4 linked regions of the Homo sapiens genome follow. The protein of the gene in region 2 purifies or fractionates together with the protein of the main gene of each other region. This does not show direct contact. Each region holds a gene or a part of one and is shown on either strand. Other genes may lie near its edges.

Region 1 (3,500 bases), on a different chromosome or scaffold from region 2:
AAAGACATATTGGATGAGAGGAATAGAGCCATGCAGACATCTAGGGGAAGGAAGGTTCCAGGCAGAGGACACAGTAAGCTCAAAGGCCTTGCCTATGGGAGTAAGCCTTGTGGGAAGGGTGCCTTAACATGGATCATGAACTGCTCACCAGATGACATGGAGAGAAGACGCAGGATATGGTGCAGATGCAGGTTCCTGGAGCTGGTGGAAGTTATCTTTGGGCTGACATTAAAAAACCCAGTCACCAGCTGAGCGGGAGAGCAGTCAGCATGGTTGCATGCTTTCCTCCAGCCATTGTCAGCTGTGTGGAGACAAGCACAGCCTGACAGAGAGGCAGATTGAGCCAGGGCTGTGGTTCAGCCAAAGGAGTTGGAAGAAATGCAAAAGAGCTTTGGGCTTGGAAATGTATGGAATGACTGACCCTGGGTTGAAGACAGGTAATTAGAGAAATGGAGACTTGAGGGGGTTAGAGATAGTGGAGAGGCAGGAGGATCAATGGATTGAAAGGTAGTGAGGTTGCAGGGCTGTAAGATCAGTACATTAGCAGAAGAGATTCGGACAGGAGGTGGTAGTTGGAGAAAGATGTTTGAATGTGTGATTGTGGATCAGCTGCCAGCATTTTAGGGTATGAGAATCAGCAGCTAAGATGAGGAGGAGAACAAGATCATTGAAAAAGAGGAGGCTGAGGCACCAAGGACCAGGTCCCAAAAGGATCGTCAATGTGGATCCTGCAGTTACCAGGAATTATGACAAGAATAATGCTGCAGAGAGTGACAGGGAGGAAGGAGCTCAGCTATTCAAATGAGAGGGAGTAACCAGGGGTTGGTAGGCAGACACAGTTGGAAGTGGTCAGAGGCCCTGTCTGAGGACAGGAGAGTCAAAGCTCAATGCTTTAGGAGGAGGCAGGGAACATGATCTGAAAGTCACATGATGAGCAAGGAAGACACCTACTCCACCTATGAACCAAGTGATACAGACAAGCTAAGAGAGAGAACAGCCCCCACTCAAGAGGACCACAGGGACTGCAGCATCAGGGGAGAGCCAGGTTTCTGGCAAAGCAAGAAGATGAAGAGAAGAAAATAGTCACAGAAGAGGTTGAAGACATGGAGGGGGGTTGTTGATGATGATATTAAGTTGTAAGGAGTTCTTACAAAAGAATTCAAAGAAATGAAGTCAGCACATGTTAAAAACAATCTATCAAGTACAAATTTAGGTCTCTTATCAGATAAGGTATTATTATTCTAATTTTATGGGTGAGAAAACTGAGACACATGAGTTTAAGCAACTTGCCGAGGACACCTCACTAATAATGTCAGAGATGAGATGATTAGGCCACGACTCCTGAGCCTGCACACTCAACCACGCACACACTGGCTCCCAGCAGTCAGCCTGCAATGCTTCCTACTTGCCAATTCCTTCTGGCCATGCTTCAATGCTTGAGAAAATAGACTAATTATTATATTCATATTCTTTTTTTTTTTTTTTGAGATGGAGTCTCGCACTGTCACTCAGGCTGGAGTGCAGTGGTGAGATCTCAGCTCACTGCAACTTCTGCCTCCCGGATTCAAGCAATTCTCCTGCCTCAGCCTCCCGAGTACCTGAGATTAAAGGCGCCTGCCACCACGCCCAGCTAATTTTTTTTTGTGTGTGTGTATTTTTAATAGAGACGGGGTTTCACCATGTTGATCAGGCTGGTCTCGAACTCCTGACCTTGTGATCTGCCCACCTCGGCCTCCTAAAGTGCTGGGATTACAGGTGTAAGCCACCGCCCCCGGCCTGTATTCATATTCTTTTTCAAACATGAAAGAACTTATTCAAGTTCCTATTGCCATGGGGCTAGAGGCCAAGAATGAAAAGGGTTATCACCATAGAAGGCGGTGTGGGTGGAGGTGGTAGTAAGTATTCTCTACCAATGCTACCATTGCTCAGGGCCCCACATCTGGTTGTGCAGCTCCATGCGATGCCTGTGGCTAAGGGGTGCAAAGGGACAGGGAACCAGCCAAAGTTCTGCTCGCTGAGCTGGAGAGCCTGGCTCAGGGCTGCATCTGGAGAAGTGGCCACCTCTTATCCTCACACAATGGAGGCATCTGCCTGCCCCGTCCTGAACCCACAGGACTGCATCACCACAGAGGAGGTGTCTTTTTCTTTTTTTTTTTCTTTGTTTTTTTTTTTTTTGAGATGGAGTCTCGCTCTGTCACCCAGGCTGGAGTGCAGTGGCGCGATCTTGGCTCACTGCAAGCTCCGCCTCCTGGGTTCACGCCATTCTCCTGCCTCAGCCTCCCGAGTAGCTGGGACTACAGGCGCCCGCCACTACGCCCGGCTAACTTTTTTGTATTTTTAGTAGAGACGGGGTTTCACCGTGGTCTCGATCTCCTGACCTCGTGATCCGCCCGCCTCGGCCTCCCAAAGTGCTGGGATTACAGGCGTGAGCCACTGCGCCCGGCCGAGGTGTCTTTTTCTAATTTGTTCACCCAGATGGGGCACCATAGGCCAGGGTCATTCTGAATGCACACATCATTTTTGGAACTCATTGTTAGAAATTATCTTCAACACCAGTGGGAATATAAAGTCAACCTTGAAGAATAACTTTGCTTTTAGAAAGAGTTAAAAGTCATTTGTTGGCCAGGCATGGTGGCTCACAGCTGTAATCCCAGCACTTTGGAAGGCCGAGGCGGGCGGATCACTTGAGGTCCGGAGTTTGAGACCAGCCCAGCCAACACGGTGAAAACCCGTCTCTACTAAAAATAAGAAAAATTAGCCATTCGTGGTGGCGAGTGCCTGTAATCCCAGCTACTCGGGAGGCTGAGGCAGGAGAATGGCTTGAACCTGGGAGGTGGAGGTTGCAGTGAGCTGAGATCTTGCCACTGCACTCCAGCCTGGGCAAGAGAGCGAGACTCCGTCTCAAAAAAAAAAAAAAAAAAAAGAAAAAGTCAGTTGTTGTCAAAAAATAACATGGGTGGTCAAGACCTGTGAAACTAAGAACTTTGTGATTCAGAAAATCATCATGGAAAGGGAGGTAATACTGGACAGAGGATCAGTCATTTCACATCTTGCAGAATATCTAAGACGATCCAGGATTTTTACAGAATGCCTGAAAATTACCATAGGATAAATACTGTGGTGGAAATGGGGGAAGCAATTCCAGTCCTCAGCCTGCCACAATCTATTTGTGTATCCTTCGGCAATTCATTGCTATCCCCTGGGGCTCGGCATCCTCTCCACTCACCAGTAAATGTGTGTGTGTGTGTGTGTGTGTGTGTGTGTGTGTGTGTGTGTGTGTGTGTGTGTGTGCATGTAAATGCATAGGGACAGTAGATGACCTATCTCCAGAGTACTCTCCAGCTCTGAGTTACTACTCTTTGATTAATTAAATCATTTTAAAGGATCAGAGCGTCAAACAGGCTTTATCATTTTAGGCTTGAGATTCTGACATTTATATTCCCCTGGGTTTCAGGATTTGTTGGAGTCTTCCTTTGCAGTCACTGAAACACATTTCAACC
Region 2 (3,500 bases):
GACAAGAACAGATTCCTCTAACTGATGTGGGCAAAAGACGAAAAGGATGAGAATACTCCCTCATCATCTAGCTGGGAGCCACAGGCAGGACATAAAGACCTTCACTTTTCTTGTCTCTATTCCTCAAACTTAGCTTGTGGTCAAAGAGAAAGAAATATGAGAGTTATCTCCATTTAATATATGAATTTTAGTGTTAGAAATGAGCATTGGTGTTCTCCCTTTTTCCTATTATGTAGCCTACCAATTAGACATGTGAAGAATTTCTATAAATGTAAATATTGCTTGAAGGGACAAGAAGAGGGGGACCAATATCATGAGGGGCTGCTCATTTCCATGAAGGGGGTTCATTAGAACACTGGGTTTTTGCCTACAGAACACTCACCCCTTTGATCATTGGTGAGAGACATGCATTGATACACATCTCTCAAATGAATAGATCTTATCTGTTGAAAGGCTGCCAACCTTGAAGATTAAGCCTTTTATTTCCTGTATACACAGAATTACAGGAAGCAGCAATCCTGGGTAGAGACAATGGTAGGATCTAAACTGAGGAGGTGTGAGAGGGTGGAGACATCAGCAGGAATGGCTGTCAAGCCTTTGCTCTTTGGTCGTGTACTGCAATCAGTTGTTCAGTAATAAAGCTGACATCAATTTCCATTTTTGCTTCTGATATGGTTTCTCAACTTTTTAATACACGAAGGGAAGAGAGGGATGTAATTTATAAATCTCCTTAAGCCCCAACAGAAAAATGAAAATACTTCAAAATCAAGAATTTGACTTACCTCTTGCCATTTCCATTATTTTTGCATTTTCTCCCTGGGGTGTTTGGTAGTCTGTGTGATCATCTATAATAAACTTGGATTTCTCAGAGGAAGAATTAGAATCCTCTCTACTTTGGGATCTTGGTAAACTCTTTGGTAAATACCAGAAAGGCACAGCTGCAAGAAGACTTATGATTCCTGCTATTAGATAGCCAAGCCACCAGGCTCCTACCCACTGGGGATCTTTTGGGGTAATGGTTATGTGATCTGAAAGACAGAGGGGATGGCTAAGTAATACAAACAGCAAAGCTAATATGTTAAAATAATATACTTAAAAATAAATTCTTGCAAAACTCTATAACATCATAAAATACCTAATAATTCATCTATGCTATTTTTTTTTTTATCTGGATCTTACCACAGGCATACCTTGGAGATTTTGCAGGTTCAGCTCCAGACCACCACAATGAAGTGAATTTCACAATACAGAATCACATCAATTTTTTTGTTTCCCAGGGCATACAAAAGTTATGTTTAACTATACTGTAGTCTATTAAGTATGCAACAGCATTATGTCTGAAAATGTACATACCTTCATTTAAAAAAAAAGTTATTGCTTAAAAAATGCTAATAATCATCTGAGCCTTCAGTGAATAGTGATCTTTTTGCTGGTACAGGATCCCATCTCAATGTTGATGGCTGCTGACTGATCAGGGCAGTGGTTGTTGGAGGTTGAAATGACTGTGGCAATGTATGAACATAAGAAAATGATGAAGCTTGCCACATAGATCAGCTCTTTCCTTCATGAAAGTTTTCTCTGTAGTATGCAATGCTATTTGACAGCATTTTTACCCACAGTAAAACTTCTTTCAAAATTGGAGTCAATCTTCTCAAGCCCTGACACTGCTTTATCAACTAAGTTTATGTAATTTACTAAATCTTTTGTTGTCATTTCAGTAATGTTCACAGCATCTTCATCAGGAGTAGGTTCCATCTCAAGAAGCCATTCACTTTGTTCATCCACAAGAAGCAACCCTTCATCTGTTTAAGCTTTTTTTTTTTTTTTTTTTTTTGAGATGGAGTTTCACTCTTGTTGCCCAGGCTGGAGTGCAATGGCGCGATCTCGGCCCACCACAACCTCCGCCTCCCGGGTTCAAGCGATTCTCCTGCCTTAGCCTCCCTAGTAGCTGGGATTACAGGCATGTGCCACCACGCCCGGCTAATTTTGTATTTTTAGTAGAGACAGGGTTTCTCCATGCTGCTCAGGCCAGTCTCGAACTCCTGACCTCAGGTGATCTGCCCGCCTTGGCCTCCCAAAGTGCTGGGATTACAGGCATGAGCCACCGCGCCCAGCCTGTTCAAGCTTTATCATGAGATTGCAGCAATTCAGTCGCATCTTCAAGCTTCATTTCTAATTATAGTTGTCTTGCTGTTTCTACCACATATGCACTTACTTTCTCCACTAAAGTGTTCAACACCTCAAAGTCATCCAGGAGGGCTGAAATCAATTTCTTTCACACTCTTGCTAATGTGGATATTTTGACCTCCTCCTATGAATTGCAAATGCTCTTAATGGCATCTAAAATGGGGAATCCTTTCCAGAAGGTTTTAAATTTACTTTGTCTAGATTAGAAATCACTAGAAATCATTAGAAATCACTACTGATCATAGCTATAGCTTTGTGAAATACGTTTCTTAAATAATAAGACTTGAAAGTCAAAATTACTCCTTGATCCATGGGGTATAAAATGGACGGTATGTTAGCAGGCATGAAAACATTTATCTCTTTGTACATCTCTATCAGAGTTCTTGGGTGACTAGGTGCATTGCCAATGAGCAGTAATATTTTGAAAGGAATATATATATATTTTTTTTCCTGAGCAGCAGATCCTAACAGTGGGCTTCAAATAGTTAGTAAACCATGCTGCAAAAAGATGTGCTGTCATTCAGCATATCTCTATTGTTCTAGTTAGAGAGCACAGGAAGAGCCTATGTGTAGGAATTTCAGAATGTTAAATGAGCATTGGCTTCAACTTAAAGTCACCAGTGGCCTTAGCCCCTAACAAGAGAGTCACCCTGTCCTTTGAAGCTTTAAAGTCAGGATTGACTTCTCCTCTATGGCTGTGAAGGTCCTAGATGGCATCTTCTTCCAATAGAAGACTATTTCATCTACGATGAAAATCTGTTGTTTAGCATAGCCACTTTCATCAATAATCCTAGTTAAATATTCTGGATAACTTTCTGCAGCTTCTCCACCGGCACTGGCTGCTTCACCTTGCACTTTTGTGTTATGGAGACAGCTTCTTTCCTAAAACCTCATGAACCTGTTTGCGCCAGCTTCAAACTTTTCTTCTGCAGCTTCCTCATCTCTTTCAGCCTTTATAGAATTAATGAGGGTTAGGCCTTGTTCTGAATTAGGTTTTGGCTTAAGGAAATGTTGTGGCTGGTTTAATCTTCTCTCCAGACTACTAAAACTTTATCTCAATAAGGCTATTTCACTTTCTTATCTTTCATGTGTTTACTGGAGTATCACTTTTATAAATTCCTGCCAGAATTTACATTCACAACTTGGGTAACTGTTTGGTGCAAGAGGCCTAGATTTTTGCCTGTCTTGGCATTCAACATGCCTTCCTCATTAAGCCTAATCTTTTCTAGCTTTCCTTTTAAAGTGAGAGATGTGCAACTCTTCCTTTCACTTAAACACCTAGAGGTCATTGTAGGGTTACTAATTGGCCTAAT
Region 3 (3,500 bases), on a different chromosome or scaffold from region 2:
CTGGTCAATAGATGACTTTTTGGGCCTGAAATCCAAAAGAGGAATGTGGACTGGAAATATAGATTTATGAATAATCAACATAAAGATGTTCATTGCAGTCATGGGTGTAGAAGAGATTGCAAAAGATAATGCATAGAATGAAGTGACAGAGCAAGAATGATCCATAAGAACCACCCCAACACTTAAGGAATTGACATAAATAAAAGGAAATTGAGATGGAGTTGTGAGGGAGGTGTCAGAACATTGAGGAGAGGGTGTGTCACAGAAACCAAGACAGGGGAGTGGACATCTGCACCATAGGCTGATGAGGTGTCAGTAGGACACCATGGAAGATGTTGGATATTTAGCTAAGGAGATATTTAGAAACATTGGTACGAGAAATTTCAACTCAGTTGGATTAGGTAAGAGCAAGATTGTCATAAAAGGGAAAGCTGGGAGTCTGAGAAGACCAAGGCAGACTGATCTCTCTGGAAATATGACTGCGTATGAATGGAGGGAAAGCAGTATAATGTCAGGATGCATTGGGGAGAAGAGGGAGGCAGTCCCTCTTCTGGGACTGCCTCCCTTTGCAAACTGGAATTTGGGTTTGCAAAATAAGATTAGGCATGCTTGTGTACCTTTAAGTGTTGTTGATAAGAAGCCAGCAGAGAATTAGGGGTGGCAAATATTGTAGAGAAAGGACTATGATCACCTAAGCAAATTCACAATACCTGTGAAGGTGGGCTGAGTTGAGCTAGGACATAGGTAGAAATAGGTTGAAAGGATGGCTATAAGGAAAGGTCCCCATCCATTATCACAGAAGGAAAGAATAGGTCAGCCCAGAGTCAAGTAAGTATGCTGATTCACTAAGAAATTTAAAGAAATCTTGCTGATCATGCCTATTTATCAAGGAAATGGAAGGTGAACCCAAGGAGTAAAACCGGGAGAATCATGATGGGATTGCAGTTTTAGGTAAAGTGGAGAGAGCTTGAAATTCATACTGAGCATAATGGGAGAGGTGATTAGCAAGACACAGCAATGCTGCCAAGTGGTATGCACGGCCCTGCTAAGGATGCAGGAGATGTTTGTGGAGCCCCCATGGCGGGTCTGTGTGATTATTCTCCAGCTGTGCCTGGCTTTGGAGCAGGCAGGGAAAAGGCAGATCTTTTCTTTAAAGGTGTTGTAGAAAAAAAAACTAAAAAAAAAAAAAAATAAAAAAATAGAGCAAGATGCTTGAAGCTACTGAAATGAGTGGTTGAAGTAATGGGGGAAAAAGAAACTTAAAAACAAAATCATTTTCTTAGGCTTTCTAAGTAGTCAAAGAATAAGAAGAATTGGAGTTCGCAGGTACAGGGATAGATGGAAAAAGGATAACTGAGCTTATGATTTCAGATCTAAAACATTTTCCACTACAGATATAGTCCAGGGTGTGGGGATGACAACTAAAGTGGTATCTGAAAGGAAATAATTAGATTAATGGGGCTCAGAGGTGCAGGAACTGGAATTTGGGGAATTAAATGAGACCCTAGTATGTTTAGACTTGAAGTGGAGAATAAACCTGTTTCATATCCTATTAATGAAAAGGAGGCTGTCTCAGGAAGTCTGCATTAACAAGGGGAAAGGCACCTAGCGCTCCACTAATGATGAGAGAAGTTTAAGAATGATATTTATTTAACAATAATTTTAAAATGTGGGATGAGAACCACTCATGTCCAGAATAGTTATTTTCTACTCAAGGCCCACCTGAGAGAGGGAGTCCACTGCGGCACAAAAGGTGGATAGAAACACCAACTTCTAAGCTATAAAAGTTTGGATGTTGGAGGTTGTTACCAGTGAAGGTTGTAGGATTTGTTTTCACAAATTAAAAATAAAAAATTCACTATGTCTCATTTCCTGATGTTTTCAATATAGCTCTGCTAAGGAGGAAAATAGGCTGAGTGATTACAAGAGTTCTGTTCAATCCTTTGCTTATGTGGTTTTGAATATTTCATAAAGGAAAACAAAATTTTAGACATTCATTCAACTTGTGACAGATGATTTTTGAAACAATGAAGTAGTATGGGGAAGTTAGCAAATATTTCGGATTTAGCATTGTCAGTTTGATACGAAAGGAATGCACTTTTTCTCCACAAACCTGAGTATGTTTTAAACCTTATCTTTATGCACCTGTTTTTCTTCTAGTATAAATTTTCCCTTTTGACAGTGTGTCTTTTATAAATATACCAATGTAAAATTTAGGGCAAGGTAAACAGTAATATGAAAGCTTAACAGCAGTAAATGATGAAACCTAAATATCTAAAAAGGGAAATGCCTTGTTCCATCCATCTTTTTCTCTTTCCTATTTTATAAACTTCATAAATTAGCAAAATCATTAATATAGTCTTGTACAAAAGTAATTTATTCCTTGTCTTGATATGAGAGGCTTTTGTGCTTTACAGCCCAGCTTCTTTGATGTAAGTTCTAAAAATAGATTTGTGATCACTCCATTTGTTTTCCTTTTCTTTTCTCTTACTAGTCAAAAGAGAAGATGTGTGAGAATACAGAACCAGTGGAAACTTCTTCTCGAACCACCACAACCGTAGGAGCGACAACCACCCAGTTCAGGGTCCTAACTACCACCAGAAGAGCAGTGACTTCTCAGTTTCCCACCAGCCTCCCTACAGAAGGTACCCAAGAGATAGTTTGCTTTTTTTTTTTTTTTTTTTTTTTTTTTTCCCTGAAGGAAGGAAAAATCACTGTGTTGACATGTACTGGAATAGCTCCTACTCTCTAGGTCTCTCTAAAGTTATTCTTTGGCAAACTGGATTTCTAAGGGATTTCCAAAGGGGAAAAAGACAAAATTATTATGAACTAAAAGTAAATGCTGGGATTCTTTTAATGCACTGTGCCTTTTTTTAAGACATAGCTTTTACCATTGATTCTGGCTTCTTGTCCTCTCCTTCCTAGAAAAGAAATACAGATTTCTTCCTGTGTGGCTAAATTTTGTACTAAGCAAATCCAACTTCACAATCACAGGTTAGAAAGGCAAAATGCATATAAAATGTCCGTTGATTCTGGATTCTGAACAATAAATAATTCTATTAATATATAATTCTAATGTTTTCCAGAATGCAGTCAATAAAATATATTGGTCTATAACCTATACAGAAACACTGTATGTGTCATAGAAATTGTCCTTGAAAACAACTATTTCCTCTTCTAAGGTAGGCAGAAATACTAGAGAGTGTTAATGCTTGGGCACAGCTCAGGAGGAAGAAAGTGTATTACCCAACATACGATAATTTTCTATTCTGAATGATACCACCAGGAGGGAGAGGGCAGAAACATAAGACTGGCCACGAATCAGGTTTGAGGGGGATAAATGGGTCTTACTTGTTTATTGTTATAAGCCTCACTTTCTTTGGCTTGAATAAAAAATTAAATATGGAACTTTTAATTGGAATTTAATTTGATATTATAAGGTGAACTGGAATAAAGTGGGGTGGAAAGCAGCTGCTAAGTGCATTTTACTGCTTTTAAAA
Region 4 (3,500 bases), on a different chromosome or scaffold from region 2:
GGATGTATTGTACAAAGGCTGTTAGGACATAGCATCATTCAGTAGGACAAGGGCTATGTGGGTTTATAGAGCTATGTAGGAACTTTGGACAAATAACTGTGTTGGATAAGTTAGTATGTTACTTTCCAAAAAGCATAACAAGGAAAGAGAGGGTTATGTTTATTTATTTATTTATTTTTGGAGACAGGGTCTCGCTCTGTTGCCCAGGCTGGAGTGCAGTGGTGAGATCTTGGCTCACTGTGACCTCCGCCTCCTGGGTTCAAGGGATTCTCATGCCTCTGCCTCCTGAGTAGCTGGGATCACGGAAGTGCCCCACCACACCCTGCTAATCTTTGTATTTTTAGTAGAGAAGGGGTTTCGCCATGTTGGCCAGGCTGGTCTCAAACTCCTTAGCCTCATGTGATCTGCCTACCTTGGCCTCCCAAAGTGCTGGGATTACAGATGTGAGCCACTGTGCCTGGCCAGTTGTATTCAAATTTTCTCCTTATTTGAAGGAAGTTTTAAGAGGTGATTGATAAAAGGAAGAGAAGAGGGCTTAGCAACGTGGGGGAAAGAGGACATTTTTCCCTTAAGAACGTGGAAGAAGGCTGGGCACGGTGGCTCACGCCTATAATCCCAACACTTTGGGTGGACAAGGTGGGTGGATCACCTGAGGTCAGGAGTTCGAGACCAGCCTGGCAACAATTAGCTGAGCGTGCTGGCATGTGCCTGAGCATCAGATTAGGAGATTATGCCCATGCAGCTCAATCTTTCTTTTTAAATGATAAAACGGTGGCTAGGTACGGTGGCTCATGCCTGTAAATCCCAGCTCTTTGGGAGGCTGAGGTGGGTGGATTGCTTGAGTCCAGGAATTTGAGACCAGCCTGGGCAACATGGGGAAACCCCGTCTCTCCAGAAAAAAATAGCTGAGTGTGGTGGTTCGTGCCTATAGTCCCAGCTACTTGGGAGGCTGACCGGGAGGATCACTTGAGCCCAGGAGGCGGAGGTTGCAGTGAGCCCAGATCACGCCATTGCAGTCCAGCCTGGGCAGCAGAGCAAGACTCCGTCTCAAAAAAAAAAAAAAAGGGAAAGAAGTTATCTTACGATTAAAATGGGTAGAATTTTTCATAAAACAATAGTTGTCTTAAAATTAGTGAAACATAGTAATTTCATGAGAAATTTTGTATTCCAAGTGTGCTTTTTAGCTAGTGTTTGTAAATAAATATAATGAGATACCTGTCTGTATAGGTAGGGCTTAAATGCTTATGGATGGAAGGTTATTTGATTGTATCTCAAGTGATGTAGAGGTGGAACTAGCAGAGACTTTCCAAAGGATAAATGTGGGTAGATTGAGCAGCAAGCACTTGGTAAGTCTTAGTGTTTGAACGTGCTAGAAATTTGGACTGTCACATCACTCCAATCAGCCTTGTGGTCTGTCTTCTTCATCTTCAATTTATATATATATATTTTTTTGAGAGTTTTTGAGACAAGGCCTGTCTCTGTTGTTCAGGCTAGAGTGTAGTGGTGTGATCTCAGCTCCCTGTAACCTCTGCCTCCTGGACTCAAGCCATCCTCCCACCTAGGCCTCCCTAGTAGCTGGGACTACAGGTGTGAGCCACTACCCCTGGCTTATTTTTGTATGTTTTATAGAGATGGGCTTTCACCATCTTGGCCAGGCTGGTCTGGAACTCCTGAGCTCAAGTGATCTACCTGCCTTGGCCTCCCAAAGTGGTGGAATTACAGGTGTGAGCCACCATGCCTGGCCTCTAGAATTTTGTATTCTAACATTTTCCCCTTAATTCCTAGAAAAATGTGGATGAAGAATTTTGCCATGTTGATTGTGTGAACGAATGGTTGCACCTCTTAAGGAAAAAGCCTCATTTGATACTGCTAAAAGGACCAGTGGGAGGGGGCATGTGGCAGCCGGTCTTGGCTAGCTCAGGAGCCTAGCAGACTTTCTGCTAAATAGACTTCCTTCCATCGCCTCTCTCTGCCTTTCTTTCTCAGCATAGAAGTGGCAAAACAAAGACAAAACCATTGTATGTATTTCATGGTGATAACTAACTTGATAAATGGGTCAAGCTTGTCAAATGTCAGAACTTTATTTGATACAGCATAGTTGTAAAAGTGAAGTGGCTCTTTTTTAAGAGTTCTTATTATGGGGGAAAAAAGCCCAACAAAGCAAATAACAAACAAAAAAGCAGTGACTGAAGATATTTTGAGACTGCCTGAGCTGGACTGCCTGAGCTGGACTCTAAAAACTAAAGTTTTTCTTTTCCTTTTTGCTAATCTTATTTTGGATGATTTGTTTGGTATAAAATCTGTCATTGAGATTTACAACCCCCCCCCCCACCCTACTTATTTTTTTTGAGACAGAGTTTCATTTTGTCACCCAGACTGGAGTTCAGTGGCGCCATCTTGGCTCACTGCAACCTCTGCCTCCCAGGTTCAAGCCCATTCTCATTCTCCTGCCTTAGCCTCCCAAGTAGCTGGGATTACCGGCGTGTGCCAGCATGCCTGGCTAATTTTTATATTTTCAGTAGAGATGGGGTTTTACCATGTTGGCCGCCAGGCTGGTCTGAACTCCTGACCTCAGGTGATCTGCCCTCCTTGGCCTCCCAAAGTGCTGGGATTACAGGCGTGAGCCACCGGGCCTGGCCAAGATTTACTATCACTTTCTGAATCATTTTGTACAATTAACTGTAACAGGTGTTTTTGTGATATTCTGTTTAACATTCTTTTTTTGAGATGGAGTTTCGCTCTTGTTGCCCAGGCTGGAGTGCAATGGCGTGATCTCGGCTCACCGCAACCTCTGCCTCCCAGGTTCAAGCGATTCTCTTGCCTCAGCCTCCTGAGTAGCTGGGATTACAGGCATGCACCACCAAGTCCGGCTAATTTTGTATTTTTTTTTTTTTTTTTTTTTAGTAGCGATGGAGTTTCTCTATGTTGGTCAGGCTGGTCTGGAACTCCCCACCTCAGGTGATCCACCCATCTCGGCCTCCCAAAGTGCTGGGATTACAGGTGTGAGCCACCGCGCCAGGCCTCTGTTTAACATTCTTACCCTGAATTACATTTTGTTACTTTCACTTTTATTTACACTAATTTCTTGATAGTTGTACATTCTTGATCATTGTCCTAGAAGATTCTTACAGCATAAAACTATGGACTTTTGAGAAAGAATGCTAAAATTGCCAGCCCTAATTGCTCAATATTTTCAGTTTCTTTGATCACTGTGAAGTGGACAGGGTATACTGTTTTCTTCACCAACTTCCTTATCACAGACATCTCCCCCTTTCATGATATCCCTGGTCATTTGCCATTTTGTTTTATTTTTATTAATTTTTTTCCTTGGCATGTGAAGTAAGAGCTACATTTGCCCTTTTGGTTTACTATTTTTAGGCCCCTTCTCCTGTGGCTATTTGTATACAGTTTCCCAAGGTAATACGACATGTAGGCAACTCATAGAAATGAGCTATGCTTATTAGAATCCACTTAGTATTCACCTCCAGAGCTAGCAGAGC

The links.
Region 1: the proteins of SLCO1C1 (region 2) and CPVL purify together in Homo sapiens (affinity purification with mass spectrometry; one large-scale study listed by BioGRID and IntAct). This does not show direct contact.
Region 3: the proteins of SLCO1C1 (region 2) and PLXDC2 purify together in Homo sapiens (affinity purification with mass spectrometry; one large-scale study listed by BioGRID and IntAct). This does not show direct contact.
Region 4: the proteins of SLCO1C1 (region 2) and UGGT1 purify together in Homo sapiens (affinity purification with mass spectrometry; one large-scale study listed by BioGRID and IntAct). This does not show direct contact.

The regions. Positions count from the first base shown.
Region 1 is NC_000007.14:29,066,538-29,070,037, forward strand, and holds part of CPVL (probable serine carboxypeptidase CPVL isoform b precursor), read right to left. Parts: intron 1-3,500. UniProt on the Homo sapiens protein: May be involved in the digestion of phagocytosed particles in the lysosome, participation in an inflammatory protease cascade, and trimming of peptides for antigen presentation.
Region 2 is NC_000012.12:20,719,332-20,722,831, reverse strand, and holds part of SLCO1C1 (solute carrier organic anion transporter family member 1C1), read right to left. Parts: intron 1,029-3,500; coding exon 783-1,028; intron 1-782. UniProt on the Homo sapiens protein: Mediates the Na(+)-independent high affinity transport of organic anions such as the thyroid hormones L-thyroxine (T4), L-thyroxine sulfate (T4S), and 3,3',5'-triiodo-L-thyronine (reverse T3, rT3) at the plasma membrane.
Region 3 is NC_000010.11:20,214,932-20,218,431, forward strand, and holds part of PLXDC2 (plexin domain-containing protein 2 isoform 1 precursor), read left to right. Parts: intron 1-2,494; coding exon 2,495-2,645; intron 2,646-3,500. UniProt on the Homo sapiens protein: May play a role in tumor angiogenesis.
Region 4 is NC_000002.12:128,097,700-128,101,199, forward strand, and holds part of UGGT1 (UDP-glucose:glycoprotein glucosyltransferase 1 precursor), read left to right. Parts: intron 1-3,500. UniProt on the Homo sapiens protein: Recognizes glycoproteins with minor folding defects. Reglucosylates single N-glycans near the misfolded part of the protein, thus providing quality control for protein folding in the endoplasmic reticulum.